2 separate regions of the Homo sapiens genome follow, and region 2 is linked to region 1. The links come from fine-mapping of genetic effects on plasma protein levels. A gene starts in region 1. The other region holds a variant in brackets. All regions are shown on one strand. Distances are from middle to middle.

Region 1 (15,663 bases):
AAAGAAGAACAAAACTGGAGACATCACACTTCTTGATTTCAAATTATACTACAAAGCTATAGTAATCAAAACAGTATGGTACTGGCATCAATGCAGACATATAGACCAATAGTGGAACAGAACAGAGAGCCCAGAAATAACCCCACACATATATGGTCAACTAATTTTGACAAGGGTGTCAAGAATATGCAATAGGGAAAGGATAGTCTCTTCAGTCAATGGTATTGAGAATAAGTGGTAACCACATCCAAAGAATGAAATTGGACCTTTATCTTACAACCTATACAAAAGTTAACCCAAAATGTATTAAGATTTAAATGTAAGACCTGAAACTGAAACTACTAGAAGAAAACATAGGGAAAAAGCTTCTTAACATTGGTCTTGGTAATAATTTTCTTGATGTGACACCAGAAGCACACAAAAGCAAAAATAAACAGCTGGGACTGTATCAAACTAAAAAGCTTCCGCACAATAAAGGAAACAATCAACAGAGTGAAAAGACAACCCACAAAATGGGAGAAAATACTTGCAAACCATGTATCTGATAAAGAATTAATATCCAATGTTCGTCTTTAACACAGAAAGAACTCATATAACTCAATAGCAAAAACAAAAACAAAACCTGCTTTTCAAAAACTGGCAAAGGACACGAATAGACATTTTATTCAAAGAAAACCTACAAGTGGGTGACAAATACATAAAACGGTGCTCCACATTATTAATAATCGGAGAAATGCAAATCAAAATCACAATGAGATATCACCTTGCATCTGTTAAAGTGGTGTTATCATTTAAAAAAAAACACAAGAAATAACAAGTGTTGGTGAGTGTGTGGAGAAAAGAGAACCCTTGCACACTGTCAGTGGGAATGTAAATTGGTATAGCCATTATGGAAAACAGTACAAAAAAAAGTTCTATTAGAAACAGAGCTAACATATGACCCAGCAATCCCACTTCTAGGTATGTATCCAAACGAACTGAAAGCAGTATCTCCAAGAGATATCTGTACCCCCATGTTTATTGCAGCACTGTTCACAATAGCCAAGATATGGAAACAACCTAAGTGTTCACTGACAGGCCAATTAAGAAAATGTGATATAGATACACAGATAGATGTAGATACAGATAGATATGCAATGGAGTATTATACAGCCATAAAAAGGAGGAAATCCTGCCATTTGTGACAATATGGGTGAATCTGGAGAACATTAGGACATTATGCTACTTAAGTAAGCTAGACATCAACATAAAATATTATATGATTTTTCTTCATTTGGAATCTAAAAAGTCAAACTTAAGCAGAGAATAGAACGGTCATTGTCAGGGGCTGGGGGAGATGTTGCTCAAAGGGTCAAACTTTAAAGTTGGTCAAACTTTCAGTTATAAGATGTTAAGTTGGATCTAATGTACAGCATGGTGACTATAGTTAATAATACTGTATTGTTTACTTGAAATTTGCTAAAAGAGTAGACCTTAAGTACCCTCACCACACACACAACACACACAATGGTAACTGTGTGTGGTGATGGATATGTTCATTAATGTGATTGTGGTAATCATACACAATATATATGTACGTAAAATGGTCATGTCATATTTGTCAAATACATACAATTTTTTTTTTGAGGTGGAGTCTCACTCTGTTGCCCAGCTGGGGTACAGTGGCACCATCTCAGCTCACTGCAACCTGGGCCTCCCAGGTTCAAGCGATTCTCCTGCCTCAGCCTCCCGAGTAGCTGGGATTACAGGTGCCAGCCATTATGCTCAGCTATTTTTTTTTTTTTTTGTATTTTTAGTAGAGATGCGGGTTTCACTATGTTGGCCAGGCTGGTCTTGAACTCCTGACCTCGTGATTTGCCCGCCTCAGCCTCCCAAAGTGCTAGAATTACCGGCGTGAGCCACTGCTCCAGCCTACAATTTTTATTTGTCAGTTATACCTCAGTAATGCTGAAAAACGCAACAATAACAAAGCCAGGTGGGATAGAAAACAGGTTAGATGACAGAATGGAGATCTGCAAGCCTCACGATGTGATGAATCGATGAACTGAGAGGGGATGATCCCAGCTAACACTTAGGAGCCTTTAGCGCACTAGCCATTGTGCTAAGTGCTTTATGTGCTGTGTTTCACTTAATCCTCACCACACTTGTGGGAAGCAAGGTGAGGCAATTATTCCTATATTACGGCGGGGTGATCTGGTGCTTGAAGAGGGTAGGTGACTTGCCCAAAGTCACACAGCCAGCAGGTGTTTGACACTGCTGTCATAAGCCACACTCAACACTGTGCTGTACTAAGCAAGCTGAGTTGCCTGAGCTTCAATGGCATTTTAAAATTATTTAAAGGACTATCACTTGGGAGTAGGTGTAGGTTGCTCTGAGTGGTCCCAAGAGAAGGAACTGGGACAAATACTTGGAAGCTACAAAACAGATTGTAACTGAATATAAGGAAAACATTCTAATGAATAGTAAGAGTTGCCCAAAGATGGAAGGAGCTTTGGTGTGTGAAGGTGAAACTAGCTCAATTTCCCCCGAGAACTGATGTTTGCCATTTTTTTCCTATTAAAGCTAGAAATGGACCCTGCTTTTCTTAATGCTTAAAACTTACATTTGTCTTATCTGAATTCCTTTTTCAGGAAACCCTCCGACTTCCAGATAATATCGAGGAAGTAAAACTCACATCACCACATCCAGATAACGAGACACCAGACTCCTCTCCTTACTCCTCCATAATTCCTGTTTTCCTAACCAACCATCTGCTTCCCGTTGACCAATTGTTCTTCCTTACCCCTCCTTAATTCCTGTTTTCCTGTGGGTAGCTACACTCCTTCCCCACTATATACACCCCAATTTAAGTTGGTCGAAGATCTGAGACTTATCTCCACTTATCTTTATTTGGCAGCACCAAAGAAAGCCTTCTTCCCCCAAAAATACTTGATCCAGTGATTGGCTTTCTGTGCTGCAAGCAACAGGACCTAAACTGAACCCCTGGTGTTTCAGTAACAAAATATTGCATTCCCTACCTGTGAATTGGGGGTAATACTAGCACATGCTGCGTAATTGTTGTTTTAAGTAAATAAGTGACTGTGCAGAACTCAGAACGGTTCCTGGTAGTCGTAGCACAGTACTTTTTATAAGCGTTTCTTAAATTTAAAATGAAAATTAATGAACATGTTCAAGCAGACATGGGGCATTGCCTGAGTCAACGCAGAAGACAACTTCTCAGGATTTTCCCCAGTTACTACCACGTCCTTCCTCTAAGAACGGCCTCTCTTTCCATCCTCAATGAGGAGAGGGAAGGCCATGTTTGTAGCCCTGTTTGTGCCTCATGGTCTCTGCACACTAACCTCAGTTTAGGGTGGACACAGGACCAAGCTAGACTCATCAGAGTCTCTCTCTTGGTACTGATGGTCACTGTTCTGAGTTTCTGTTCATTGCTGCAGGTGAGGTGAGATAGACTCAGGCTCTGTGCATGGAGGGCAGAAAACTCCAGACTCTGAGAGAAGCATGAATCAGATGTGCAGAGAGAAGTGGAGATCTCAGACTACTTGGTCCCAGAAGAGAGAAGCAGCAACTGGGAGACCAGCTGCTTGACTGCTGAGGGTTCTGCCATGTCTGGTCCAGGCCCTCCCAAGGCCTGGCTGCATTTCCTCCCTGCCTGTGAGTGCATGTGTGTAAACACGGTAGCTATTTTTTCTTTAAACCAATCTAAAATGAGTTTCTGTTGTTTGCAATCCACAGAGATTTAACTAGGATGAACCTAGATCACTGAGCTGCAAGGCAAGAACTCCATGAGAGGAATTCCAGGTAGAAGGCCAAGTAGGTGCTCAGGGGAGAGATTTGAGACCAGAAAGTGTCAGGCAACTCCTGTCTTCACTCCCTCCCTCTCTCAAGGCTATGTATGCACTGTTCTCTATTTCCTCTTTTCACGGTTCCATTTGTCCCCCTCTGCTGAACAGCTTCTCTCTGCTATCATCCCCTTCCATGTCCCCTGGAGCTCACCTGGCTTCCCAGCTACACTTCCCTCCCTGACTCAATTTGTTGAGTCAGTTTGTTGAGTTGATTTGCTGAGTCAGTTTGTTTCTCAATTCTGTTTTTACATTCCTTGGAGAGAGTATCTGATTGGCTGTGCTTGGGCCAGGCATTCATTATTGATTCCATCCCTAGTGAACAGGGGGTGTGGCCACCTGGGGGTTGGGGCTGCCCCTTCCAGGGACGTGAGCAGAGCAGATTCCATGAAAGGGGTATGGAGAAGGAAGAATCTTAGTGCAACAGCCACTCAGCTGGGATGTTGTAGAGGAGATTCAGGCTTCAAGTGGTTTCATGACTTCTAATCTTAGGAAAGGTCCTTCATTTCTGTTGTAATAACAACAACAACTAGCATTTATTGAACTTCTATAATGTGTCAGATGCCCTTCTAAGCACTTCACATGCACTGACTTAACTTATTCGATGCCTGTAAAAGTACTTAGATGGGCAGTAGAGGGGAGGGGAGGGCAACAAAAAACGATGTCACTAGGGTGTTGCTGTAGATTGGATGTTTGTAACCCCCCAAAATTCCTATGTTGAAACCTAATGTGATGATGTTTGCAGTGGAGAATTTGGAAGATGATTAGGGCATGAAGGTGGAGCCCTCATGAATGGGATTAGTGTTCTTATAAAAAAGATCCCAGGCCAGGCACGGTGCCTCATGCCTGAAATCATAGCACTTTGGGAGGCTGAGGCAGCCAGATCATAAGGTCATGAGTTCGAGACCAGCCTGACCAACATGGTGAAACCCAGTCTCTACTAAAAATACAAAAATTAGCCAGGCGTGGTGGTGTGCGCCTGTAATCCCAGCCACTCAGGAGGCTGAGGCAGAAGAATCGTTTGAACCCAGGAGGCAGAGGTTGCAGTAAGCAGAGATTGTGCCTCTGAACTCCAGCCTGGGCAACAGAGCGAGACTTTGTCTCAAAAAAGAAAAGAAAAGAAAAGAAAAAAATCCCAGAGAGCTCCCTAACTCCTCCCACAAGGTGAGGACTCAGTGAGAAGACTGCTGTCTATGAACCAGGAAGTGGGCCCTCACCAGATATCAGCGTCTGCCAGCACCATGATCTTGAACTTCTCAGCCACTAGAATTGTGAGGAATAAATTTCTGTTGTTTAGAAGCCTCCCAGTCTGTGGTATTCTGTTACAGCAGCCCAGCTAAGACACAGGTTATCTCATTCCAACATTCAACAAACTGACCTACGAAGTCCAATCTCAATTTGATCCACTCTTACTCTTAATGATCTATCTTATAAAACAGAAACACATCTTCCTGACATTTTCATCCTCACATAAAAATTCTTCTATCCATTGATAAGGTTTTGATGTTTAGGCTTTTAAAACAAAGATAGTTTATTTCTGAAAAAAACTGAAAAGAGAACTAGAAAAAGAAGATAAATCACAATGCACAGTGCAATGAAACTTCGTTTTTAAAAAATAGCCTTATTAACATATAATTGACTATACCCACTTAAAATACACAATTTGATGAACTTTGATCAATGTATTCACCAGTGAAACCATCACCACAATCAAGGTAATGAACACACCTATCACCTGCAAAAGTTTTCATGTGCTTCTCTGTAATCCCTTCCCTTCCTACTCAAACTCATGCCTCTTGTCACAAGGTTTCTCCACTCTGGCTGTTGGGAACGAACTATTGCCTGGCCAATGCAAGCTCAGAAGTTTTTCTGCCAGCTTTTTTCTAGTGGTTGCCTCTCTGTCTTGGGAAGTTTCCTCACATGCATGTACCTGGTCGAACTTCTGCTGAAGACTCAGAGGAACCCTGCACAGATCTCCAGAGCTCCCTCCTTCCGTTGCACTCTCTCCTCTCTGGTACTCTAGCCACCCTGGCCTCCCTGAATTCTCAGCTCTATTTTCCAACTCAGAGTCTCTTTTGGTTCGCCTGTCTGCATTGCGGCTTGGAAACCCTCTCCAGGCAGTAAGCTGGAGCAAGCAGCATGTTCACTTCCTTTGTCTCCCTTCTCTTGGGCCCTGCATTGCCTGTTGCCCAATGTCTGAAAACCATTGTTCCATACATTTTTTTCACAGATTTTTCATTTCAGGTCACAGAGTAAGTCCAGTCCTTGTTGCTCCCTCCTGGCTGAAGCAGATGTCAACACTTATTTTTAAAAAATAGAAAATCATTTACAACAAGCTCATTGCAAAAAAAAAATTCAACAAAGTCTTATAAATTATAAAAGTCAGTATTTCCCCTTCAGTACTTGCAACTCACAGCCCAGAAATAACCACTGCTCACGGTAAACACAACATTAAATAATTTCCACTTCTCCCAAAAAGACCTATTGTAAAGTTGCAGATGCAGGAAAATCTTTGATGGTGCTGGAGGGATTTAGAAATGAATGCCCCTGAGAAATGCTGTCCTCTCCCCTGTCCACTTCCCTACCACGGAACATGTGAGCTAGGGCTCACTCTATACTGACTTCTCTTTCACGGTCCCAAAGGCAGGAGTGAGGTGGTCAAAGTCTCTGTGAAGGCACATAAAATCATGTATGTGAAAGTGTTTGGCAAACTTTGAAATCATGTACAATTCTTAGTTAATATTATATATTATCATGTTATTTTTAATATTAATAACTTATATAACAACTAGTCCTTGGAGGGTTTGATGATACCCTCAGTCAGCATTTTCATCACTAGTGAAAGTTTCTCCTCATAACAATCCTGCTCAAGCTCTCCAAGGTCTATGGCAAAAAATAAAAATAAAAAATAAAAAGCATTATGTTGCTTCAAGGTCATCTTACAATGACTGCAGTTGTGTGGGATGAGTATGCCATATGAGGAAGAATCTCCAGGCCGAAGTGGTACAGTCCAGACACAGCCTTTAGAGCTAAGAGGCCATTTCTTTTAGCCTCAAAAATCACTCAAATATACCCCTGCAAAAACTTTATAATTTCTCCCTTTGATGGAATGGCAAGTAACATTGAGCTTTTTTCTTTCTTTTCTATTGCTACCTTTTAATTTTACCTCCTACTCTGATCTGGATCTGCAAGCAATGGGTTCCTAAATGTCAACTCTGGAGATAATAAACACATAGCAGAGACTGATATTTTCCCACCAATTATTTATTCTTTCAATCCTAAAAAATACAGACACTTAACAGTGTTCTATTTACAATGTGCGCATCCAGGCAAAAATTTCCGGACAGGCTAAAAAGCAAGAAAATGCGATCCACAATCAGGAGAAAAATGAATCAACAGAAACTGATTCAGAAACAAACAAGATGCAGATGCTGCTCACAGAAGTCTAGAACGCCAAGGTGAAGCCCCCACTGGGTTGGACATTTTCTTATTCCTTATGTCATTTAAAGCACAACTCCCGAGATTTTACGTGATATAACCGCTAGAGGCCTCTCTGTCACAGGCTGTATTACTCCCAGGTCCCCATGTTGGCTGTGTTCAGATTTTTTGTTATATTTGTGGAAATCTGAGTGCATGTGACGACTGCTATTTATGGGTTTTGTTTTTATTTTTAAAGACAGGGTCTTGTTCTGTCCCCCAGGCTGGAGTACAGTGGTGTGATCACAGCTCATTGCAGTCTCGAACTCCTGGGTCCAAGCCATCCTCCCAACTCAGCCTCAGGACTTACAGGCGAGTACCACCTCACCAGGCTTGATTTTTGTGTTTTTAAACAGACTGAACATCTTTCAGTACTTCCCATCCCCACCCCTCCCGGCCCTGACTCCGCCACCCCAACCCCGCCCCACTTTGTACTACCCAAGCACATCTTGGGAACATGATGCGGAAAGTCAGGGACGCTGGAGGTGAAGGACTGATGACGCGCTACGGTGGTCCTAGGTGCGCGTGCCCCCTCTCTGGAGTAGTCCCGGGGGTCACGAGGATTTGAAGACAGGCCCTCCCTTCCCACTGCCCCCATTCCCCCGAATGCCAAGCCCCTGTGGGCAGGCGCCCTGGGCAGGTGTGGTTGGTTGCTAAAGCCTGCTGGGCCCAGACATGAACCCTGCCCTAGCTGGGCAGCGGCGCGGGAGCAAAGTTGTTCTGAGGCTGCCCTCCCCGGGGCCTGCTCTCCCAGCCCTGGAGGAGCCGGCGCGAGACGCGCGGGGGCGGGGCCGCGCGGGGGGGCGGGGCTCACCAAGGCTCCACCCCGCCGCGGCCACTGTTCGCACACACCTGGTGCTGATCAACGCCGAGGCCGACTCGTCGCCACCCAGCGCGCCGCAGGCCGGGGCGGAGAGGCGCAGGGCGCTGGGCAGTCTCCGGCGAGGGCAAGGAGCGGTGCCCGGCTGGGCCGGCTATGTCTCCCGCTACTGCGGTTCCCGCCGGCGCCCGCGACCTCGGGGGAGCAGCCGGGTTCGGGGGCGCCGCGCTGTGAGGCCGGGGCCTAGAGCCAGCCGCGGCCGCGCAGGAGGGGCCCAGGGCCCGCGCTCGCCCGCGTCCCCGCCTTCCTCCCGCGCTCAGCCCCGCCTCGGCTCGCTGCCCTTGGCTCTCGTCGCCATGGCCTCCGTCGCCCAGGAGAGCGCGGGCTCGCAGCGCCGGCTACCGCCGCGTCACGGGGCGCTGCGCGGGCTGCTACTGCTCTGCCTGTGGCTGCCAAGCGGCCGTGCGGCCTTGCCGCCCGCGGCGCCGCTGTCCGAACTGCACGCGCAGCTGTCGGGCGTGGAGCAGCTGCTGGAGGAGTTCCGCCGGCAACTGCAGCAGGAGCGGCCTCAGGAGGAGCTGGAGCTGGAGCTGCGCGCGGGCGGCGGCCCCCAGGAGGACTGCCCGGGCCCGGGCAGCGGCGGCTACAGCGCAATGCCTGACGCCATCATCCGCACCAAGGACTCCCTGGCGGCGGGTGCCAGCTTCCTGCGGGCGCCGGCGGCCGTGCGGGGCTGGCGGCAATGCGTGGCGGCCTGCTGCTCCGAGCCGCGCTGCTCCGTGGCCGTGGTGGAGCTGCCCCGGCGCCCCGCGCCCCCGGCAGCCGTGCTCGGCTGCTACCTCTTCAACTGCACGGCGCGCGGCCGCAACGTCTGCAAGTTCGCGCTGCACAGCGGCTACAGCAGCTACAGCCTCAGCCGCGCGCCGGACGGCGCCGCCCTGGCCACCGCGCGCGCCTCGCCCCGGCAGGGTAAGCGCGCGACTGAGGGGCCGGCCTTGGCCAGAGCGCTCGAGACCCGCAGCGCCCTCGCCAAGTTGGAAGCGAAACACACTCGTGCCAAGTTATTTTAGCCGCGGGCACCCAGAAGAGTTTCTGGCATGGGTTTCTCTGTCTTAGGGAAGAGGAAGCCCAGTAGTTTGGCAGAAGCGGGCGGGCGGGCGCGGTGACGTGCTACTGGAATTTTTCTAGGCTTGAAGAGAAAGGCTGATCTGAGAGGATTCGTGGAAATATGACTTAAAAGGGGAGAAATGCTGAGAGAAAAAAGTTTGTTTTAGTCTCATGGGTTGTATAAGGCATGGTTTGTGTTAAGTAATTGCAAGAGCAAAATCTAATTAGATGCCGGGCTTCTCGTAACACCCACTCCTTTTTCTTGACGTGGCTCTCCTGACTTTGCCTGCGGTGGCTTTCATCATACAAAAATGGGAGGAAAACTTCTGGTCCCTTTTATAAAAAGTGAAAAGAGGGGACTTGATTTTCGTTGAAAATAAGAAACTTTAAGGCCGGGCGTGGTGGCTTATGCCTGTAATCCCAGCACTTTGGGAGGCCGAGGAGGGCGGATCACCTGAGGTCAGGAGTTTGAGACCTGCCTGACCAATGTGATGAAACCCCATCTCTACTAAAAATACAAAAATTAGCCAGAGCTGGTGGCATGCGCCTGTAATCCCAGCTATTCGGGAGGCTGAGGCAGGAGAATCGCTTGAACCTAGGAGGCGGAGGTTGCAGTGAGCCGAGATCGCGCCATTGCACTCCAGCCTGGGCAACAAGAGCGAAACTCCATCTTAAAAAAAAAAAAAAAAAAAGGAAAAGAAAATAGGAAACTTTAAAGCGTGTTTCTTAAGGACTAAAAATGATGCTGATTCGACGGTTTGACTTTTTGTAGATGCTCTGAATGAGAGAATCAGGACACATACAGGAGGCACAAAAATGGTAGTGGTTGGACATGAATGTCACGGAGGGAATAAGAGACCTTGATTGTGCCCACGTGTGGTCAGGCTCCGTGTGTTTAATCATGCCCTGTTGCTGTTTGATTTATAATAGCACGAATGATATCAGCAAGATGGGGGCGGAGCTCAGCCCCTTTGGAAGTGTGGATTCTCCAAAACCTGTGGATCCATTGAAAGAGTCTGGAAATCTGTGTCCATCACATCCTGCCTCCCTCCCCACCTCTACCTTAGATGAGGCTCAGAATCCTTGTCAGGGGAGCAGATATCAAAGGGTCACCCTGCGACTGCTTGGCCTTGAGGCAAACACTGGGAAGGACTCCATAGCTTTCCTTCTGAAGTGGAGGCAGGCAGCACTTTCACTTGGACCCCCCATCAGCATCTCTGAGGCCCACCACGGCTGTTGCACACACATCCTCTCTGCCCAAACACAGACCAAAATATCCCAGCAGCAAAGAAACAAAGTCTTTTCTCTGTGTTCTCACTACTTACCTGGAAGAAACTGACATTGCCAAAGTGAGCTTTCCTATAAACCCAGAGGAAACCTTTGAAAAGGAAAATAAACAAGGAAAGAATATGCCATAGAACAAAAATTTTAAAGTTTAGATTACTTGGAGACGCCAGGCACGGTGGCTCATAACTAACCCCAGGACTTTGGGAGGCCAAGGCGGGTGAATCACTTGAGGCCAAGAGTTAGAGACCAGCCTGGCCAACATGACAAAACCCGTCTTTGCTAAAAAGAAATAAACACAAAAATTATCCTGGCATGGTGGCGCCTGTCTATGATCCCAGCTCCTCGGGCGGCTGAGGCAGGAGAATCGCTTGAACTGTGGTGGTGGAGGTCGCAGTGAGTACAGATTGCGCCACTGCACTCCAGCCTGGGCAACAGAGGGAGACACTGCCTCAGAAACAGAAACAAAAACTTCAGGTTACTATGAGAAGTTTCTGGGTTGTTTTTCCTCTTGCTTGCTTCGTTGCCCTTCCTTTCCCCAGGGGAGTTTGTCTAGGAATTGTTTTGTAGATGTTTGGGATGAAAATAGGCGAGCGCGGTGCTGGTCCTCATTTCTGGGAGAACACTGCTGTGCTCAGACTTCCTGAGGTCCCAGCAACATGGAAACGCGGAAGGTGCGGCTCAGGTTCCTGTAGAGGCTCATTTGTTCTCTCTGCGTGGAGGTCAAAAATTGTTCCCCAGTGTCCTGTGTGTCCCCTGCTCAGATGCTTGACAGGTTGAAGTTGTTTATGCTTCAGAGACTAAGTTTTTCCTTCTTGAATTGTTCGTTTTTGGGTTGTGAGCATGTGAAAATGGTTTAGAAGAGCCCTTGGAGAGGAGCTGTGACTGGATCCATCTGAGGTGGATGAAAGCACCATGAAGAAATGGTGATGGGATAGCACGAACTTACAGCAGGACACACCAGCCCTGTTTTCATGCCCACATTTGTTGACTTTGGTGTTAGGTGCTGTCCTCAGCCCTTTGCACGCATGAACTCACTCTGTCCTCACAACAACACAAAGGCCTAGGTTCTGTTATAATCCCTAGTGTATACAAGGCTTGGCAAGCGAAAGTAACCTGCCCAAGGGTCACACAGCATGGGGTTGTGGAGCCTGAACTCCTATGCTTTCTCCAGCAGCACCAGCAGAAGCTGAGAAAGGGATCACTAGGCTGGGACTGCGAGGGTAGAGGTAGGGAAGGCGGGAGGATGCAGGAATGAGTGAGAGATGCTGGAGAGAGGTGTCTTGTAGTGACTGAGCCTGCCTGCTAGAATCTGTAGAACAGAGGAGGGTGCTTGAAGTTCTGGGGCCTGGCGTCTCCACAAACAAGTCCCTGCTCATGCCCCCAGGACTTGGTGTCTGCTTGTCCTCCATCCCAGGCTGTCGTGAGGTTCAAGGGGGGACATGCTTTGTGAGTTAGGAAGGTGGCACGCATGTACATGATACTGTTCTAGGAACCTGGTTGGGTCATGCCCATGACTAGAGGGTTGGGGGACTGGATGTCATGATAAAAAGTGAAGAACAGCAGGAGGGAGGGAGGGAGGGAGGAGAGGTAGAAGCTAGAGCTGCTAGGATTCCAGAAGAGCAGGGAATATAACCTCCAAGGACTCAAGGACGATAACCTTTATGTGGTTTTTGCTGGATATTCAGCCTGAAGTCCAGTATCTCGGGGAAGAATTTGGGAAGTGGGCCCCTTGCCTTGTGTGTCAGGGAAAATCAAAGCTATTAGGCAGAGGTCTGCTCTCCTCTCTGCAGACCCACCTGCTGCCACCCCCAGCCTTTCCCTGTCTCCGCCAAGTGCAAACAAAAGAGTTGACCTTCCCATTCAAGGTTAATCCCTCTGCAGATGCTTGACCACTCTCCCTCTCCAAGGGCCTTACTTTCTCACATTCTTATCTTCTCCCTTTTGTGTTATAAACAATTATATTTAATAAATAATAGTAAGATAACTGGTTGGCAGTGTCAGGGAAAGTACATTTAGACCTACAACTCTGACCATACACAAATTCCAGATGGATTAAAGAATTAAATTTTTTTTAAATTAAGCCATAGATTACTCCATACATAAAAAAACTTAAAGGAAGTAAACTTCCATATCTGGAAGGAAGACAGGTTTCAAATCAATTAAAGAGGTCACAAAGAAAGGGGATAGATTATATGCACATTTATAAAAAACTTCATATCAAGAAACAAAAGGAATTGCAAACAAGAGTCTGGGAAAAATGTGACATTATTTATTCGTAGAGTTTATGGGCCAGGCACAGTGGCTCACACCTGTAATCCCAGCGCTTTGGGAGGCCAACGCAGGTGGATTGCTGGAGGCCAGGAGTTAGAAACCAGCCTGACAAACATGGTGAAACTCCATCTGTACTAAAAATAGAAAAATTAGCCTGGTTTGTTGACACACGCCTGTAGTCCTAGCTACTGGGGAGGCTGAGACATGAGAATAGCTTAAACCCTGGAGTCGGAGGTTACAGTAAGCTGAGATTGCAACACTGGACTCCAGCCTGGGCGACAGAGCAAGACTCGGTCAAAAAAAAAAAAAAAAAAATATATATATATATATATATGAGTCAGCAAGAAAAATAAAAATAAATGGGCAAAGGACATGAGCAGACACTTCCCAGAAGAGGAGGTATGGTGGATAAACATGGAAAAATGTTCGACCTTAGAATCAAAGAAATGTAAATAAGGCCAATTTTCATTTATTAACTTGGTAAAAATAGGTTTACTCATATTGGCATGCATATGGGAGACTTCATATACACTTCTGTGCTCACCGATGGTGTAAATTGCTACTTCCCTCTTGGAAACCAGTTGGGAAATATGTGGCAGAGACCATTAAAATATTCATTTCATACTTCTGGAATATTTTTTAGGAAAAGGAACCATGCTGAAGAGAACATATGAGCAAAAAAGTGTTTTACTCATATTGACATGCATATGGGAAACTTTATATACACTTCTAGCTCACTGATGGTGTAAATTGGTACTTCCCTCTTGGAAAGTAATTGGAAAATATGTGGCAGAAACCATTAAAATATTCATACTTCTGGAATATTTTTTAGGAAAATCATCTATGCTGAAGAGAACGTATGAGCAAAACATGTTTATTATGGCATTATTTATAATGGTGAAAAAGTAACAAAGTAAATGTCCAGTAGTACAGATTAGGAAACTCAAGTGGCAATTGTGAAGCTTAGGTTATCACATGGGCAGTGCTAAGATATATGAAGAAATATCAATAACAGGAATATACCAATAAGTTGATGGATTAAATTCAGGATGTAAAATTATATTTATTGTAACTGGAATACACCTAGGGTTGTCTCGAAGTATAGTGGAAGGATAGAACCTTTGAGTTAGAAATAACTGGGCTGCATTCCTGGGTATATATTCAAAGGATTATAAATCATGCTACTATAAAGACACATGCACATGTATGTTTATTGTGGCACTATTCACAATAGCAAAGACTTGGAACCAACCCAGATGTCCATTAATAATAGACTGGATTAAGAAAATGTGGCACATATACTCCATGGACTACTGTGCAGCCATAAAAAAAGGATGAGTTCATGTCCTTTGCAGGGACATGGGTGAAGCTGGAAACCATTCTCAGCAAACTATCACAAGGACAGAAAACCAAACACCGCATATTCTCACTCATAAGTGGGAGTTGAACAATGAGAACACACGGACACGGAGGAGAACATCACACACCAGGGCCTGTCGGGGTGGGGGTCAAGGGAAGGGATAGCATTAGGACAAATACCTAATGTAAATGACGAGTTGAAGGGGGCAGCAAACCAACATGGCACATGTATACCTATGTAACAAACCTGCACGTTGTGCACATGTACCTTAGAACTTTTAAGTATAATAATAAAAAAATAATTAAAAAGAAGTATCTGATCTGACAAATTTATCGCCTGTGTGATGTAACTTAGCCCTCTGAGCCTAGTTTCTGCATCAGTATTATGCAGATGATAATACCTACCTCAGAGATTCGTTGTGAAAGTTAAGTTCTTTCTATAACTTCACCTGGCCTGGTACCTGGTACAAGGAAATTGTAACCGCCCAATGGGTTCTCCTTGCCCACTGCCTACACAGAGCTGATTTATCAAGACAGGGGAATTGCAATAGAGAAAGAGTTTAATTCACAAGGAACTGGTTGTGCGGATAAAACACAAGACCAGATGAGCCAGTTTATCAACCTAGGTACTGCCAACGGGGTGCTGCCAACCATCGAGGACAGGGTCTATAAAATATCTCAAGCACTGAACTTAGGTTTTATAATAGTGATGCCTAAGCCATAATTTCTAATCTTGTGGCTTATTTGTTAGTTTTGCAAAGGCAGTCCAGTCCTCAGGCAAGAAAGGGGCTTATTTGGGGAAAGGGCTGTTACCATCTTTGTTTCTTTTTACTTTTTTTTTTTTTTTTGACACAGGGACTCACTTTGTTATGCAGGCAGGAGTGAAGTGGCACAGTCTTGGCTCACCGTAGCTTTGAATTCCTCAGCCCCCCAAGTAACTGGGACTATAGGCATGTGCCACACATCAGGCTACTTTCTGTATTTTTAGTAGAGATGGGGTTTCACCAGTTCCAGGCTGGTCTGGAACTCCTGGGCTCAAGCAGTCTGCCCACCTCAGCCTCCCAAAGTGCTGGGATTACAAGCATGAATCACCACACCCGGCCGCGTCTGTTTCAAAGTCAGACTGTAAACCAAGTTCCTCCCAAAATTAGTTCGGCCTATGCCCAGGAATGGACAAGGACAGCTTGGAGATTAGAAGCCACATGGAGTCAGGTCAGATCTATTTCACTGTTATAATTTTCTCAGCTATAATTTTTGCAAAGTCAGCTTCAAAATCCCTCAGTAAATGGCAACTATTATAATTATTATCAGCAGCACCATAGGGAGAAGGACTGGATCAGTACATACCAAAAATCACAATAATCATATTGGGGTTGCGGATAATTTTTTTTCCGAAGTGTTGCAGTTGGAAATCCATGATGGATTTTGACCGCATGTATCTGAGCCTCTTCCCCTAGTCTCGCCCCGCTTCCGTACCCTGACTTCAGGGTTCTTTCCAGT
Region 2 (15,663 bases), 37 kb after region 1:
AACAGCATAACCATTATGTATTTGTGTAAATCCTCTTCACCCAAGCAAGTGAACATTTAAACAAGTTGTCTTGAAAGAGATGCATGTGCTAGTAATTCAACGTTATGCCTCCAATTTAACTAAATCTATCACTAAAAAAAGTAAGGCTAATGAGATTTATTTTTATTTTTTTTGAGACAGGGTCTCACTCTGTTTCCCAGGCTGGAGTACAGTGACGCGATCACAGCTCACTGCAGCCTCAGCCTCCCAAACTCACATGATCCTCCCATCTCAGCCTCCTGAGTAGCTGGGACTATAGGCGTAGTAGCTGGGACCACCATGCCTGACTAATTTTTGTATTTTTTATAGAGACAAGGTTTTGCCATGTTGCCCAGGCTGGTCTTGAACTCTTGGGCTCAAGCAATCTGCCCACCTCGGCTGGCCTCCCAAAGTGCTAGGATTATAGGTGTGAGTCACTGCACCTGGCCTAAAATACATTAACATGACTAAAGCATTACAGAATTTAGCCAGATGCAGTGACTCACCTATAATCCCAGCTACTCTGGAGGCTGAGGCAGAAGAATTGCTTGAGGCCAAGAGTTTGAGACCAGCCTGGGCAACATAGTGAGACCTTGTCTCAATCAGTCAATCAATAAGTATTACAGGATTCCATCATTTTTTACACACTTATTATTTGCATGATTATGTGACATGAGACAGAAATAGAGATTATCACATTTCCAAAAGCTTTTCTAATGTCTTTTCAGACTCTGCATAAGTTGTATTGAAATAACCTGACATGATTTTAGTAAGTTTATTAAGAAAAATTTTTGTTCATTGTACAAGATACGGAAGATGCAAAATAATTTAAGAAGGAAAGTGAATTTAAAATACCACCTCTTTTGAAAACTGCTTTTAATATTTGTTATATTTCCTTCCACTCTTGTTTATGTGCCTTGTAGATTTTAAGTGCCTCCATAAAAATATGTCTGCAAAACATTGCATTCTATCAGGGGCTTTTCTTTCTGAGTTTTGGTTAAGAATGCTGCCAAGTGTCTGCTTTTTTGGTCCATTCCTGGTTGGTACTGCCACCTACTGGTAAAATCGGTCACTACATGCAAGCCTTTGGATGTGGTTTTAGTGGGTTTTCTCTGCTTAAGATAGTTTGTATGGAGAAGAGCATCACAATCTAAGAAACAGAGTTGGGCAGACCAGGCATCTTTGGCAGGACTGCCGAAGGGGTGAAGAGTTTATGGAGAGATCTGTGTTATCAGAGGCCAGGATGGATGAATTCCTACCACATTACTGTGGTGGAGAGAACCACGTGAGCATGAACAAATTAGCTGAAAGTAGAGTCGAGACCAAAGCCCAGGTCTTGGCTCTACCTTTAGAACCTTGAATAAGTCACTTCATATCTCTGGACCTCAGTTGCCTCATCTGTTAATAAGGGACTTCAACCAGATGTCCTCCAAGGTGCTGTCCAGCACTGAGGAATGATAAATAGGCTGACATTCATACTTTACCCCATCAGCCCTTACCCATGCTAGGTGTCACTCATTGGTCCCAGCACTGTCCCATGGGGAATGTGGACTTAGCTCAGAATCCTTTTGAAAATAGTGCTCCAGGCTAGAAGCCATTATTCTCAGCAAACTAACGCAGGAACAGAAAACCAAATACTGCATGTCCTCACGTTAGAAATGGAAGCCGAATGATGAGAACACATGAACATATGGAGGGAAACAACACACACTGGGGCCTGTCAGAGGGTGGGAGGTAGGGGGAGGGGGAGCATCAGGCAGAACAGCTAATGGATGCTGGGCTTAATACCTAGGGATGGGATGATCTGTGCAGCAAACCACCATGACACGTTTACCTGTGTGACAAACCTGCACATCCTACACATGTACCCCGGAACTTAGAAGTTGGAGGGAAAAAAAAGAAAATAATGCTCCAGGCTGCCACCTGCGGCTGATGGGAGTCAGCACCCAATTTCCAATCTATTTATGATCTCTCCTTTTGCTTTTTGATAATCAGCCTTTGGATTTGGTTATGAAGATGTAAAGAGTGGTCTTTCACAGATGCAGAGAGATTAGATGTACAGTTATTATATTAGGGCTTTTTCTAATTATTAAAATAATATGGATTTACTGTAGAAAATATAGAAAAATACAAAGAAAGTTAAAAGCATCTAGCAAAACTCACCATTAAAATTTTGTCGCATTTTCTTCTGGTTACTTCTATTCATACACATATACATATTTATTCATTTTTAACAAAAGCAGGATAATGCTTTTATAAAACTTTTTTCTTACTCATGAGCATTTTCATGTATTATTAACTATTCATCAAAAACACACTTTTTGAAAGTCCTGGGGTGAAGAAAGTGGGAAGAAAAAAACAAAACTGAAAATGTTAGAAAGAGCCCTCACATCCTGTAGTTTCTGTTCAGACAGTAGCTGTCCCTGCCCTCCCCCTCTGCTGTCCCTAAGACCACCAGAGTAGAGTCCTCAGCCTCTGATTTCATGTAAGTTAAAGACCCATAAGTAGATTTAAAAGTGCATTATTGGCCGGGCACGGTGGCTCACGCCTGTAATCTCAGCACTTTGGGAGGCCGAGGTGGGCGGATCATGAGGTCAGGAGATCGAGATCATCCTGGCTAACACGGTGAAACCCCATCTCTACTAAAAATACAAAGGCCAGGAACGGTGGCTTACGCTTGTAATCCCAGCACTTTGGGAGGCCGAGGCAGGCGGATCACAAGGTCAGGAGATCGAGACCATCCTGGCTAACATGGTGAAACGCTGTCTCTACTAAAACTACAAAAAATTAGCTGGACGTGGTGGCGGGCACCTGTGGTCCCAGCTACTCGGGAGGCTGAGGCAGGAGAATGGCGTGAACCCGGGAGGTGGAGCTTGCAGTGAGCCAAGATCGCACCACTGCACTCCAGCCTGGGCGACAGAGCAAGACTCCGTCTCAAAAATAAAATAAAAAAATAAAAATAAAAATACAAAAAATTAGCCGGGCATGGTGGCGGGCACCTGTAGTCCCAGCTACTTAGGAGGCTGAGGCAGGAGAATGGTGTGAACCCAGGAGGCAGAGCTTTCAGTGAGCTGAGATTGCGCCACTGCACTCCAGCCTGAGCAACAGAGCGAGACTCCATCTCAAAAAAAAAAAAAAAAAAGTACATTGTTGTTCATGACACATGCCTGGGTTTTAAGAAGACCATCAGCTAGTACAATAAATATGAATGAGTTAAATTCACTGCTGCCTCCTTCCTGCACAGACATGTGGTGAGGACAAATAAGACTTAGCTCGGCTGGGCGCGGTGGCTCATGCTTGTAATCCCAGCACTTTGGGAGGCCGAGGCAGGCAAATCACGAGGTCAGTTCAAGACCAGCCTGGCCAACATGGTGAAACCCCATCTCTACTAAAAATACAAAAAATTAGCTGGGCGTAGTGTCAGGCACCTGTAATCCCAGCTACTCAGGAGGCTGAGGCAGGAGAATCACTTGAACCCAGGAGGCGGAGGTTGCAGTGAGCCAAGATTGCGCCACTGCACTCCAGCCCAGGTGACAGAGTGAGACTCAGTCTCAAAAAAAAAAAAAAAAAAGACTTAGCTCATGGAAGACTTGTTAACAAGATACTAAGATTAATACTAACAGTGTAGCATGCAAAGTAGTGAGATGTAGTTTTTCACCTATCACATTGACAATGATGAAGAATTATAATAATTAATGTTTCTAAGAGTAGAGAGAAACAAGTCTCACACTCTGCTGGTAGCAATGCAATTAGTACGTCCTTCCAGAGGCCAGTTTCTGAAGGCTTAAAACTATGTATATGATCGGGTGCAGCAGCTCACACCTGTAATCCCAGCACTTTGGAAGGCCAAGGCAGGTGGATTGCTTAAGGCCAGGAGTTCTAGACCAGCCCTAGCAACATGGCAAAACCCCATCTCTACAAAAACTACAGAAATCAGCTTGTGGTATTCACCTGTAATCCCAGCTACTTGAAAGGCTGAGGTGGGAGAATTGCTTGAGCTTGGGAGGTCGAGGCTGCAGTGAGCTGTAATCCCACCACTGTACTCCAGCCTGGGTGACAGAGTAAGACCTCATCTCTAAAACAAAACTATGTGTGCTTTGACCCAATTGTCCCACTTTTGGGGATTTATTCCACACAGGTTACTGAGGATAAAATGAAGGTATGTGCAGACATTCAGTTACACCAGCGAATGCATGCTCAGTACACTCTGAGCCACCGGGCAGGAGGAGCACAGAGCTCCAGTGTGGCCTGTGTTTGCTCAGCATGTAAAGGCACAATGGCTGGATTGTTGACCATGGTCATAGCCGTAGGGCCTGTTCTCTGTGTGGTCCATGTCATTCATTAACAATTCCACCCTCTTGTATCCAAGCTACCCCGAGGAAAGAAATCTGGTTTCCAGCCCTACAAAGGGCTAGAAAAGTGGTGCTACATCCACATTCACGTGGAATCTGCTTTTTGAAACTTGAGAATTCCTGGGCATGTTAAAGTATTTCTTCCGGATCATGCCTGCATGCTCTATGGCAGCTGGAAATGAAATGAAAACAGCTTCCATCCAGCTGCCAATTCCCTCTGTGAATGTGTCGCCATGCATAGTAAACATAATACATTCAGAAGAAAGGAAAAATGGTCTCCTAAGACATGTAACTCTTCCAGAAGGATCATTACCAAAAGTAACTATTTCCAGAAGCAAGTGATGTCATTGTTTTGTTTTGTTTCGATTCGCCACACTGGCTAGAGCCTGTGATTGGATGTGTGAAAGTGAAGCATTTCTCTATGGCGTTCCTTATGCTGAAATCTAGGAAAAATGAATCAGGCAGACTGGGAAATCATAGGGAATTCCTTCATGGAATGTAAACAGCAGAAATTCACATTTCAGTTACCCAGAAGGCAGGGCCAGGTTCCTGGGTAATCCTAGAGTCTGGGGCAACTGCGCCTTCTGAAGTCTCCCATGCACACTGCCCGCTGCCTGATACCTGATCCCTCCCTACATCACCATCTTCCTCTCCCCAGGGAATAAGGGCATTTAAGAAAATGCTGTTTAAAAAAATTTTTCTTAAAGAAAGAAAGTGCTCTTTAATTTTGACAACTGAAGATTCAGAAAGAATTTGCATAGTTTTTTACATGAACCCACCTGTGAGGTTAGGTCCCTTTTGCAAGTACAGTTAGCCAATTTCTCTACTGCATCCTTAATAAAGCTTTGTCCAGAACCTTCCTAAAAATCATTTAAAAGTGTGTGATTTTGCCTGGGTATGAGTAAATAAATATAGTATTGACTTGGTTCTTGGAGTAAAAAACTCGTATTTGCTAGTTGTGACCTTGAGAGCAGTATGGTTCAATGGAAAACTGCTTTGGATCAGTCCTGGGTTCTAATTCCAGCACCACCAATTACTAGCTACTAAGTAATCAACTTCTCTAAACTTCATTTCCTTACCTGTAAGAGGATAATAATCTCAGCTGGGCACGGTGGCTCATGCCTGTAATTCCAGCACTTTGGGAGGCCACGGCGGGTGGATCACCTGAGGTAGGGAGTTCGAGACCAGCCTGGCCAACACGGAGAAACCCCATCTCTACTAATAATACAAAAATTAGCCAGGCGTGGTGGTGCATGCCTACAATCCCAGCTTCTCGGGAGGCTGAGGCAGGAGAATCGCTTGAACCCAGGAGGTGGAGGTTGCAGTGAGCCGAGATTGCGCCAGTGCACTCCAGCCTGGGCAACAAGAGTGAAATTCTGTCTCAAAAAAAAAAAAAAAAAAAAGAGGATAATAATCTCTCATAATATGGCTACAAAGATTGCAGGAGATATTATATGTAAATATAATTGATGTCTCTCAGTAAATGTTAGTGCTGTTTGAATTTTTGCTAGAACATTCAAGTCCAGTGGTATTCGCTAGGAAACCAGGGTAAGAGAGCGCCAAGTGTATAAGGCAGTTAATTCAAATAAAAAATAGAAATAGTGCAGTAGTGTTTCCAGTACTGAGTTCCTTTAAGAATTAAGATGAGCAAGCTCTCATCTTCATTGGGAAGAAACAGTGAGGTGAACACTGTAAATGCAGTTATCTTATTTTTTTTATTGGGTGAAAGACAAACCAGTTAGTCCTCTGAAAAAAATCGGGAGTTGGTGAATTTTGGCACTTTGTTTTTATTCCTGGCTCATTTTTAATTTTATTTTTATTTTTATTTTATTTTATTTTATTTATTTTTTTAGATGGAGTCTCGTTCTCTTACCCAGGCTGGAATGCAGTGGCGCTGTCTGGGGTCACTGCAACCTCCACCTCCCAAATTCAAGCGATTCACCTGCCTCAGCCTCCCAAGTAGCTGAGATCACAAGCGTGTGCCGTCATTCCCAGCTAATTTTTGTATTTTTAGTAGAGATGGGGTTTCACCATGTTGGCTAGGCTGGTCTCGAACTCCTGACCTCAAGTGATCCACCTGCCTTGGCCTCCTAAAGTGCTGGGATTACAGGCGTGAGCCACCATGCCCAGGCCCTGGCTTATTATTTTTAAAAAGTAGGACTTGAGTTTCCCACCATGTGATCTTCCCACTTCCAAATTTATTATTGGAGAGAGAGATAAAGCAGAATGCATAGAAGTTCCTTTGCAAGCTAACCTGGCAGTACGGCATGGGGGAGGAGGAAAGGGATGAAGGGAGAAGTGCCACAAGTGGTTTTTAGGTAACTTAGCAGTTTGATTTCCAAGCTGTTTCAGGGCTGCTAGTTTTGTGTGTGCGGCTGCTGGATGGACTGTTTTGCATATCACTGATTTATATCTCTACAGAACAAATCTTGTGTTTCTTTTGGAGATCCACGAGCAACTGGCATTTGAAAAAATCAGGCATTATTGACTTTAAAACACAGTAATGTTTTCTATATCTCTACCAAGCAAAAGCTCAGGAACATTCACTGGAGTCTCTGTAGTAATCTAAACAAGGCTTACATTGAACCTTCAAAATGCTATTGAAAATATTCATATTTTTAGGTCAGGTGCTGTGGCTCACACCTGCAATTCCAGCACTTTGGGAGGTCAAGGCGGGAGGCTTGCTTGAGCTCAGGAGTTCAAGACCAGCCTGGGAAACATGGCAAAACCCCATCTCTACAAAAAAATAGAAAAATTAGTCAGGTGTGGTGATGCTTACCTGTAGTCCCAGTTAGTTGGGAGGCTGAGGTGGGAGGATCACTTGAGCCTGGGAAGTCGAGGCTGCAGTGAGCTGAGATTGCACCACTGCACTCTAGCCTGGGCAACAAAGGGAGACCCTGTCTCAAAAAAAAAAAAGAAAATAAAACATACTCATATTTTCAATATGGATATCAACACCATGAGATTTGCACCATAAAAGCAGTGGTTAAATATGTACCTATTAACTACCTCACCCCTGAGAAAAAGTGTAAAAATTACTTGCCACAAAAATTGCACTCTGGTCTGTCTACTAGCAGTAAAAATATAATAAAATAAAAAAGCTGCATGGTCTTATTTTTCTGTATTAAATAGTGCTTTCCTATGTCAGCAGATGTTTACAGTACTTCTAGTATAGCTTCCTAGGCCAGAATCATATATAATAAAATCTTTTTTTTTTTTCTTTTGAAAAGGAGTCTCTGTTGCCCAGGTTGGAGTGCGGTGGCATGATCTTGGCTCACTGCACCCTCCGCCTCCCAAGTTCAAGTGATTCTCCTGCCTCAGTTTCCCAAGTAGCTGGGATTACAGGCGCCCACCACCATGCCTGGCTAATTTTTTTTTTTTTTTTTTTTGAGACGGAGTCTTGCTCAGTCGCCCAGGCTGGAGTGCAGTGGCGCGATCTCGGCTCACTGCAAGCTCCGCCTCCAGGGTTCACGCCATTCTCCTGCCTCAGCCTCCCCAGCAGCTGGGACTACAGGCGCCCACCATGCCTGGCTAATTTTTTTTGTATTTTAAGTAGAGACAGGGTTTTGCCATGTTGGCCAGGCATGAGCCACTGCGTGCGGCCCTTATGTAATACAATCTTATAGAACTACCTGGCCTGGGATCAG[G/A]TATCATATAAGAGAATCCAGGTAGCTGGAGAGGTCCTTGGTGACCACTGTCGTGGCTACTGCAGTGAGTTGGACAGTAACAGAACTCTTTTTGCAGGGAAATCTGATCCTGCAGCCTATGAGCAATGGCTGTGCTTTCCTCATCTCTCTCCTTCTGTCTGAGCTCAGAGTTTATGGAGAAAGCCCAAATTATTGGCTGTATGTAGGACCAACATACATGGAACTTTCTAGAGTAACAAGACACAGTAGACTGTCCCCAAAGTGCCAGGATTATAGGCATGAGCCAGTGCACCTGGCCAACTTTGTGACTTAGTAAATTTGCAAAATGCAAGTTACCAAAGAATTTTATATACTACCTTTAAATAGTCTTATTTCATTTGCAGGAATTAGGAACATTTATGTTGATGCCATATGAGTAAAGAAGCTTTAAAAATTTTCTCAATAAAATTTGTCAGTAGATTATTTCTAATTCATTGCCATTAAGCATTGTAATACTCAAAAATCCCACTTAAGGCTGGGCATGGTGGCTCACGCCTGTCATCCCAGCACTTTGGGAGGCTGAGGTGAGCGGATCACTTGAGCCCATCTGGGGAACATGGCAAAACCCCGTCTCTACTAAAAATACAAAAATTAGCGAGGCATGGTGGCACGCACCTGTAATCCCAGCTACTCGGGAGGCTGAGGCAGGAGAATTGCTTGAACCCAGGAGGTGGACGTTGCAGTGAGCCAAGATCGTGCCACTGCACTCCAATCTGGGCAACAGAGACTCTGTCTCAAAAAAAAAAAAAAGTAAATAAATAATAATAATTTCCCCCTCAGTATTATAACTTAATAGTTAAGTAATATATCATTAAATTAGAAGTACTGGTCTCTACCAAGAAACCAGTTTGCATCCCAGCCCTGTGACCCACTTACTTGTGTGAACCTAGGTACGAACCTGACCCTGAGCCTAACCAGAAAGAAAATTGAGCTATTTATACCTGCCATCCAGAGTTGTGAGAAAGAGAAAGAGCATGTCTAAATGCCTTATATATGCCCATTGTTTATTCTTCAAAGAAAAACCTTTCTGGTTTCTGCTTTTCATGGCGTGATATCCGGAGACTCCCTGTGACTCTTCTAGCCTGAGATCTCCCTTCTCCAAGAGGCGTGGTGGTAGTTCGGTGCAGGGTGTGTCTTCCGCTCTCTCTGTCGGTGGTTTCGTATTAGCTGCGTACTTTGCTTTATTCAGTGGGTCACCTTAGTTATTTACTGCTTAACTATCAAACATAGGCCTTTGTTTAGTAGAGAAATAAACAGTTCTTCTCTAAGTCCATCTTAAAAAAAAATAAGGCTGTATTTTCACATTTGTTTCCTGAAGTTTCTGATGCATACACCTTCAATATATGTTCTCTTTCTTTTCTGCAGATAGTAGTTCCTCAGGGAAGAACAGAAAAGAGGAAAGTTATATATTTGAGTCAAAGGGTGATGGAGGAGGAGGGGAACACCCAGCCCCAGAAACAGGTAAATGTCCACCTTGGAAACCCTTTGCAGACTGTAGTCTTCTCAGAACTGCATGCCCTCTGGCTGAGGATATTCCCTGAGGCCATGAGAGCTCAGGACAGGAGGAGTCCGTCAGTGGACCGAAAGAACTGTCTCCTCGTTGCTTGTATTGCACTGCGTCTTGGGGCTCCTGATAGTAACCTTCCATCTTTGGACCTCAGCTGCCTTTTCTATACACCCTTCCAGGTGTGACACCTGTGGAAAATGTCATACTTGTGGCATGGTGGGAGAACACAAGCTTTAGAGTCAGATGCCACAATTCAAATCCTTGCTCAAAGCTGGGCACAGTGGCTCACGCCTGTAATCCCAGCACTTTGGGAGGCCAAGGCAGGAGGATCGCTTGAGCTCAGGAGTTCAAGACCGGCCTGGGCAATATGGCAAAATCCTGTCTCTACAAAAAATACAAAAATTAGCCAAGTGTGGTGACATTCGCCTGTAGTCCCAGGGAGGCTGAGGTGGGAGGATCACTTGAGCCTGGGAGGTCGAGGCTGCAGTGAGATAAGATTGTGCCACTGCACTCCAGCCTGGGTGACAGAGTGAGACCGTCTCAAAAAAAAAAAAAAAAAATTCTCACTTACCCACTAAACTGTATGACCTTGAGCAGGCTATCTTATCTCTCTGGATCTCAGTTTCCTCATTCGTAAGATGAGGATAGTAACAATACCTGCCTCATAGGGTTGCTGAGAAGAATATATGGGATAATTAATCTCAAGCATTGAATGCACTGTGTGGCTCATATGATGAGCCAAATATAGAAACGATGGCAGTTATTACTCAGTTATTTACGATGAAAGAAGAGTAAAGGTCTTAGAATACCTAGTTCTCTTTCCAAGTGCCCTAGTGACAAAGACAGAAAACAACAGAAATGAGGGAAGGGTGTAGGAAGTAGAATATTTACTAAGTGGAAGAAGAATACAATAATTTCTTTAATTTTGGTTGATTTTAACTAGGAAGAAAAGACTTTGGAAACCATCCTTTAGAAAGGCAGGCTTTAGTCTTAAATCCCACAAACTAGTAAAAGAAGCTTTAGAAGAACAAAATATAAGCTTAAGTTATAAACATTGAGAAAACTTTCTTTTTACCCTATTTATAATATCAGGACAATATTAAAATATAATGTTTAAACAATAGATAGCTAAGAATACTCCAGATGTCAAGTACCTGGGTGACCCCCTTGGTCTGCTGGCCTCCTGGACTTAGCCTGTCCCAAGATATTTGAATAAAAGGGGCCCTGTCCCCTATCAAGGGAAGAGGGAAACCAGCCTGCCTCTTGCCTCCCCACACATATGTATCCAGAGAGTCTCAGCTCTAGTTGGCTGTTGCCTATTCTGGTTGTTACATATTTTTGTTTTGTTTTGTTTTTGAGACATCGAGTCTCACTCTGTTGTCCAGGTTGGAGTACAGCGGCGCGATCTCAGCTCACTGCAGCCTCTGCTTCCCGGGTTCAAACGATTCCCCTGCCTCAGCCTCCCTAGTAGCTGGGATTACAGGTGCATGCCACCACACCTGGCTAATTTTTGTATTTTTAGCAGAGATGGGGTTTTGCCATGTTGGCCAGGCTGGTCTCAAAACTTCTGACCTCAAGTGATCCTCCTGCCTCAGCCTCCCACCATGCTGGGATTACAGGTGTGAACCACTGTGCCCAGCCTGTTACATATTTTAAATGTCACCCCCATTCATATGAACAGAATACATAATTCATCACCCTAGCTGGTTACTGAGAATAGCATCATGGTGTGTTTTAGAAGGAGCTAGAAAGTTGTAAATCTCAAATTATCCAAACTAAGCCAACTAAATATTAAAAGTCAAGAATAATTTTCAATATTCTGGCAAGTACTTTTGGGAGATTTCATTTTCCTTGTCATAAAAGCATTAAACAGGAATCAGATCAGACAGTTCAGCAGCCTCATATCTGACTTAGCAAATAGAACATTTTCCCAGATCTCGTCTGTTTTATTGTTACCATAGCTAAACCTGAGCCCCGGCATTGGGATTGGCATCTTCAACCACAGCTTCATAACCCTTTAGCCTAAATGCTGATGCTCATCTTTAAGCAAGTCCCCCGGACTGGGGCTGGGTGTTGCGGTCCAATTCATGAGAAATGATTTGGGGTTCCTGGGGTTTTCTGTGGGTATTGACCAAAGTCTCTTTTTTTGTCCTGTTCCTTTGTAACATATGCAACTTATAGGAAGGTGGAGGGAGAATGACACCTTGGGGCCACTTAGCCTTGTCAGAACTTCTTTCATCAGGTGGAGACTAGGAGGCAGTAGTAGCTACTGAAGCCCCAAACTGCTGGCATGGAGAGACCAGGCAGCCATCTTGACACCTCCAGAACTGCTGTGTATGGAATGAGACAGCCGTAGAATCCAATTCCAGTCCATAGGGTTATCACCGATTTGTATCTTTCACAATTCTCTGGAGGAATGCTGGCCTCTTCCAGAACTTTGTTTGATACCTAACAGTCTCTAAAGCAGCTTTCCCATCCCCTCCTCCGGCAACCAGACACTTTCAAACTGTTCTTGAGAATCTTGTTCAGGAGTTTTACCTGGGATTCTAAAAATACACCAGAGTTCAAGTGCCGTGAGTGTGTCATCAGCTCCAGGTCCTCTTGTCTTCAAGAGGCGGCCAGCTATACCTGGGACCAGTTTTAAGCCCAGTAAATCAAGACTGTCTGGAGTGAACTTCCTCAGCTACCTGCCCCCCAAATGTAAAAACTCATCTGGTTGCATTCACCCCTCTTCCTCCCCTCCAGTACTAAAGGAAGAGGTGTCGCCTCTTTCCAAGGTCTCTCCCTGATCTGGCTAAAGCCCCTGATTTCCTCAGGTTCATTTCTCATCATCTCCTAGCTCTCCCGTGTTTTTCATCTCTGTTTCTTTACTGGCTCATTCTCCTGACTGTGATCATGTTCAGATTTCTTAATGTGTAAAGAAACAAAGTAGCATCCTCCATCTTCTGTACTCCCATAAATGAATTACCAATTGCTAAATCCAGGGGGCTCTCCAGGCTTCACCTCACTTGACATTTCCTTAGCATTTGATTCAGCTGAGGACTTTCTTCTTGGACGTCTCTTTCCTCAGCTTCCAAAAGCCCACTCCCTACTATAGCGGTTGTCCTCCTATTTCTCTGACTGGTCTTCTTCTGTTTTTTTTTGGTCCTCTGCTTTTGTCTGCCCTCTAAATGCTGGTGTTTCCCAGGACCTCGTTCCTGGCTCACCTTTCTTCTTCCTTTCTCTCTGGCTGTCCTAACCCCTATTGTGACTGCAGCTACCACCTTTATGCTAAAGGCTCCCACATATTTAGGCCCAGCTAATCCAAAAGCCTAAGAGAAAATTCCACCTGATCGCTGATAGGCATCTCAATCTGAAAATGTCAAAAAATAAACTTACCTCCTTCAGCCACCCAACAGTCTCTATCATACATCAAAATCACTCAGGCAAAAATCCTACAGACCAGGTAGATGGACCACCTATTTTATTAATACAACTATGCTTCATCTATAATTCTATCATAGTAAGTATAACACTTTGTTGCATTTTTTCCCATTTAAATGTCTGTCTACCCAGACTTACTCGTTCAAAAACTGTCTCATTTACATTTTGTAGAAGTAGAGTACCATAGTGGATAGAACCACAGGCTCTGGGGCTGTCCTGTCTGGGGTTATTTGCTAGCTCTACCACTTAACAATCTTAGACAAGTCACTTCAGTCTTTTTTTTTTTTTTTTTTAAGACAGGATCTTACTTTGCCACCCAAGCTGGAGTACAGTTTAAGAGCTCACTGAAGCCTCTACCTCCCAGACTCAAGTGATCCTTCTGCTTTAGCCTCCCTAAGTATTGGGATTATAGGCATGAGCCACTGTGCCCAGCCTCACTTCTCTTTTTTTTTTTTGAGATAGGCCCTTACACTGTCACCCAGGCTGGAGTGCAGTAGCCTGATCATGGCTCATAACAGCCTCAACTTTCTGGGCTCAGGTGATTCTCCTACTTCAGCCTCCCGAGTAGCTGGGACTGCAGGTGCATGCCACAACTGGCTAATAATTTTTTGTAGAGACAAGGTCTCGCCATGTTGCCCAGGCTGGTCTCGAACTCCTGGGATCAAGCAATTTGCCCACCTCTGCCTTCCAAAGTGCTGGTATCACAGGCCTGAGCCACCGTGCCTGGCCCTCACTTCATTGTTGATGCCTTAGCTCCCTCATTTGTAAAATGGGGATAATAATAGCACCAACTTATGTGGTGGTTGTGAGAATTCAGTGATTTAAGCTATAAAGCTGGTATTCTTGGCCTTAGCTTATCTTGAGGGGGGTGGTATTTATTTACAAATAAAAGGATTATCAGCACTTAGCTCAGTGTCTGGCACATGGAAGAAGGCTTTTAATGAATGCAGAATGAATGAATAAATGAGAGCAAATGGTATAGAATGAGCCTACACAAAGGAGATGTTTCTCCTCTAGTTCTACCAGTTGGCAAGATCCCTACAGCTAAAAACAGTTCCACCATATAATCTCCAGACCTGGCCTGGCCACAGAGTAGATCAGACTAAAAATAGAGCCTGCTAAGCTTGATAAAAAAGACTGATATTGGCACACCCTGTCCTTCCAGACTCCTGCAAGCCTCGCTACTTCTACTCTGGTGTCTAGAATCCACCTCACAGGAAAAACTAAAGAAATGTTTTCCTTTAATGTCCAAAATCACACCAGCATATTTGGAAGTTAGTTTTCAACAAAGGTTCTACTGACTGAGTCAGTTCCCTGGATTTAGAAGGAAATAAATTTCTTAAGCCCTAACTAGAACAAGAAATCAGGAGTTAGTTCATACTTAGTTGAAGAATGATCATGTATGAATTCATAAATATAGTCAATGACTACAACAAAAAAATTTCGTGATCAGAATGCCTATTTCAGTTGGATATGAGTGATCAGATGGTAGTATGTGTACCCATTGATGCCATACAAATTTTGTAGGAAGCTGGTAGAGAATTTGGTTTTAAAGAGGTCTGTGTTGGCCGGGCACGGTGGCTCACGCCTGTAATCCCAGCACTTTGGGAGGCCGAGGCAGGTGGATCACGAGGTCAGAAGTTTGAGACCAGCCTGGCCAAGATGTTGAAACCCCATCTCTACTAAAAATACAAAATTTAGCTGGGCACAGTGGCAGGCACCTGTAATCCCAGCTACTCGGGAGGCTGAGGCAGGGGAATCGCTTGAACCCAGGAGGTAGAGGTTGCAGTGAGCCGAGATTGAGCCATTACACTCCAGCCTGGGCAACAGAGCAAGACTCCATCTCAAAAAAAAAAAAAAAAAAAAGTCTAGGTTTGGGACCTGAACCTACAACTTACAGCCTCCTAGGCAAATAAGCAAATTACTTAACCTTGGTACACCTTAGTTAATCTGCAAAATAGTGATAATACTAATAACAATTTGTTTGGATTAAATAAAATAGTGCATGCAAAGCGCGTATCATATAGTGACCAGTAGCTGTCACTGTGACTAATCACTGGCTTGCCCTCTTCATGTCTAACCTTCTCAAAGGTGCAGTGCTACCCCTGGCGCTGGGTTTGGCTATCACTGCTCTGCTGCTTCTCATGGTTGCATGCCGACTACGACTGGTGAAACAGAAACTGAAAAAAGCTCGTCCCATTACATCTGAGGAATCGGACTACCTCATAAATGGGATGTATCTATAGTAATGTAATTTCAATACCTTGGGGCAGGGACATGTTTTGTTTATAATTTATACATCTATTAAGTTCTGGATATTTACAGCTTCTTTTGTTTTTAATTGGGCCAGAAGATTCTGCAAATCCCAAATCTTTCTTTATTATTTATTGTAAAAAAAGTTTCCTTAGAAGTCATAAAATATTTTGAAATTTAGAGAGGAATTCATGATTAAAGATTCCTAAAAATATAATTCTGATTTATGTAAGCTGTCCCTGAAAATAGAAATGTGTACTTAGCTGAGAGAAAATTCAGCATCTCAGGAGGTGGTATTAGGATGACTGTGTTAACCCATTACCTTTTAGAAGCCAACTGTTGGCCCCTTACCATGCTGGACTGCTATAGGCCCAGCTTCCCCTTGTTCTGTGGCCCTTTTCTTCCTCCTTGAAGCTCCCAGTAT

Alleles and levels. Positions count from the first base shown, and alleles are read on the strand shown. Strength reflects both the effect of a copy and how common the allele is.
In carriers of allele G in region 2, the plasma level of the protein whose gene starts at base 8,157 in region 1 tends to be higher than with A alone (weak association).

What was found. A credible set is the group of variants that fine-mapping cannot tell apart. PIP is the chance, under the fine-mapping model, that this variant and not a neighbour inherited with it causes the effect. Protein levels are from antibody-based Olink assays in UK Biobank. Linkage for the fine-mapping came from a reference panel and not from the study's own genotypes, which makes the PIPs less certain.
Region 2: its variant is the best candidate, but not a certain one, in a credible set for the plasma level of the LRP11 protein (UK Biobank, PIP 0.65).

What each region holds. Positions count from the first base shown.
Region 1 is chr6:149,856,853-149,872,515 of GRCh38, reverse strand. It overlaps LRP11 (LDL receptor related protein 11), which reads left to right and starts at 8,157. Exons shown (of 7, transcript NM_032832.6): 1 at 8,157-9,108. The coding sequence starts at 8,496. RAET1E-LRP11 (RAET1E-LRP11 readthrough) reads left to right here. Exons shown (of 15, transcript NR_182438.1): 6 at 2,631-3,654; 7 at 3,736-3,813; 8 at 7,172-7,300; 9 at 7,519-7,631. It overlaps RAET1E-AS1 (RAET1E antisense RNA 1), which reads right to left and starts at 9,018. Exons shown (of 2, transcript NR_045126.1): 1 at 8,134-9,018. RefSeq lists an enhancer at 7,846-8,346 and silencers at 8,003-8,452, 8,523-8,582, 8,723-8,832, 9,003-9,152.
Region 2 is chr6:149,820,118-149,835,780 of GRCh38, reverse strand. LRP11 (LDL receptor related protein 11) reads left to right here. Exons shown (of 7, transcript NM_032832.6): 6 at 9,422-9,517; 7 at 15,078-15,663. The coding sequence ends at 15,232. RAET1E-LRP11 (RAET1E-LRP11 readthrough) reads left to right here. Exons shown (of 15, transcript NR_182438.1): 14 at 9,422-9,517; 15 at 15,078-15,663. Among named protein-coding and RNA genes, the nearest start is that of RAET1E-AS1, 36 kb to the left of the region's middle. The variant G/A (reference allele first, on the strand shown) is at 8,018.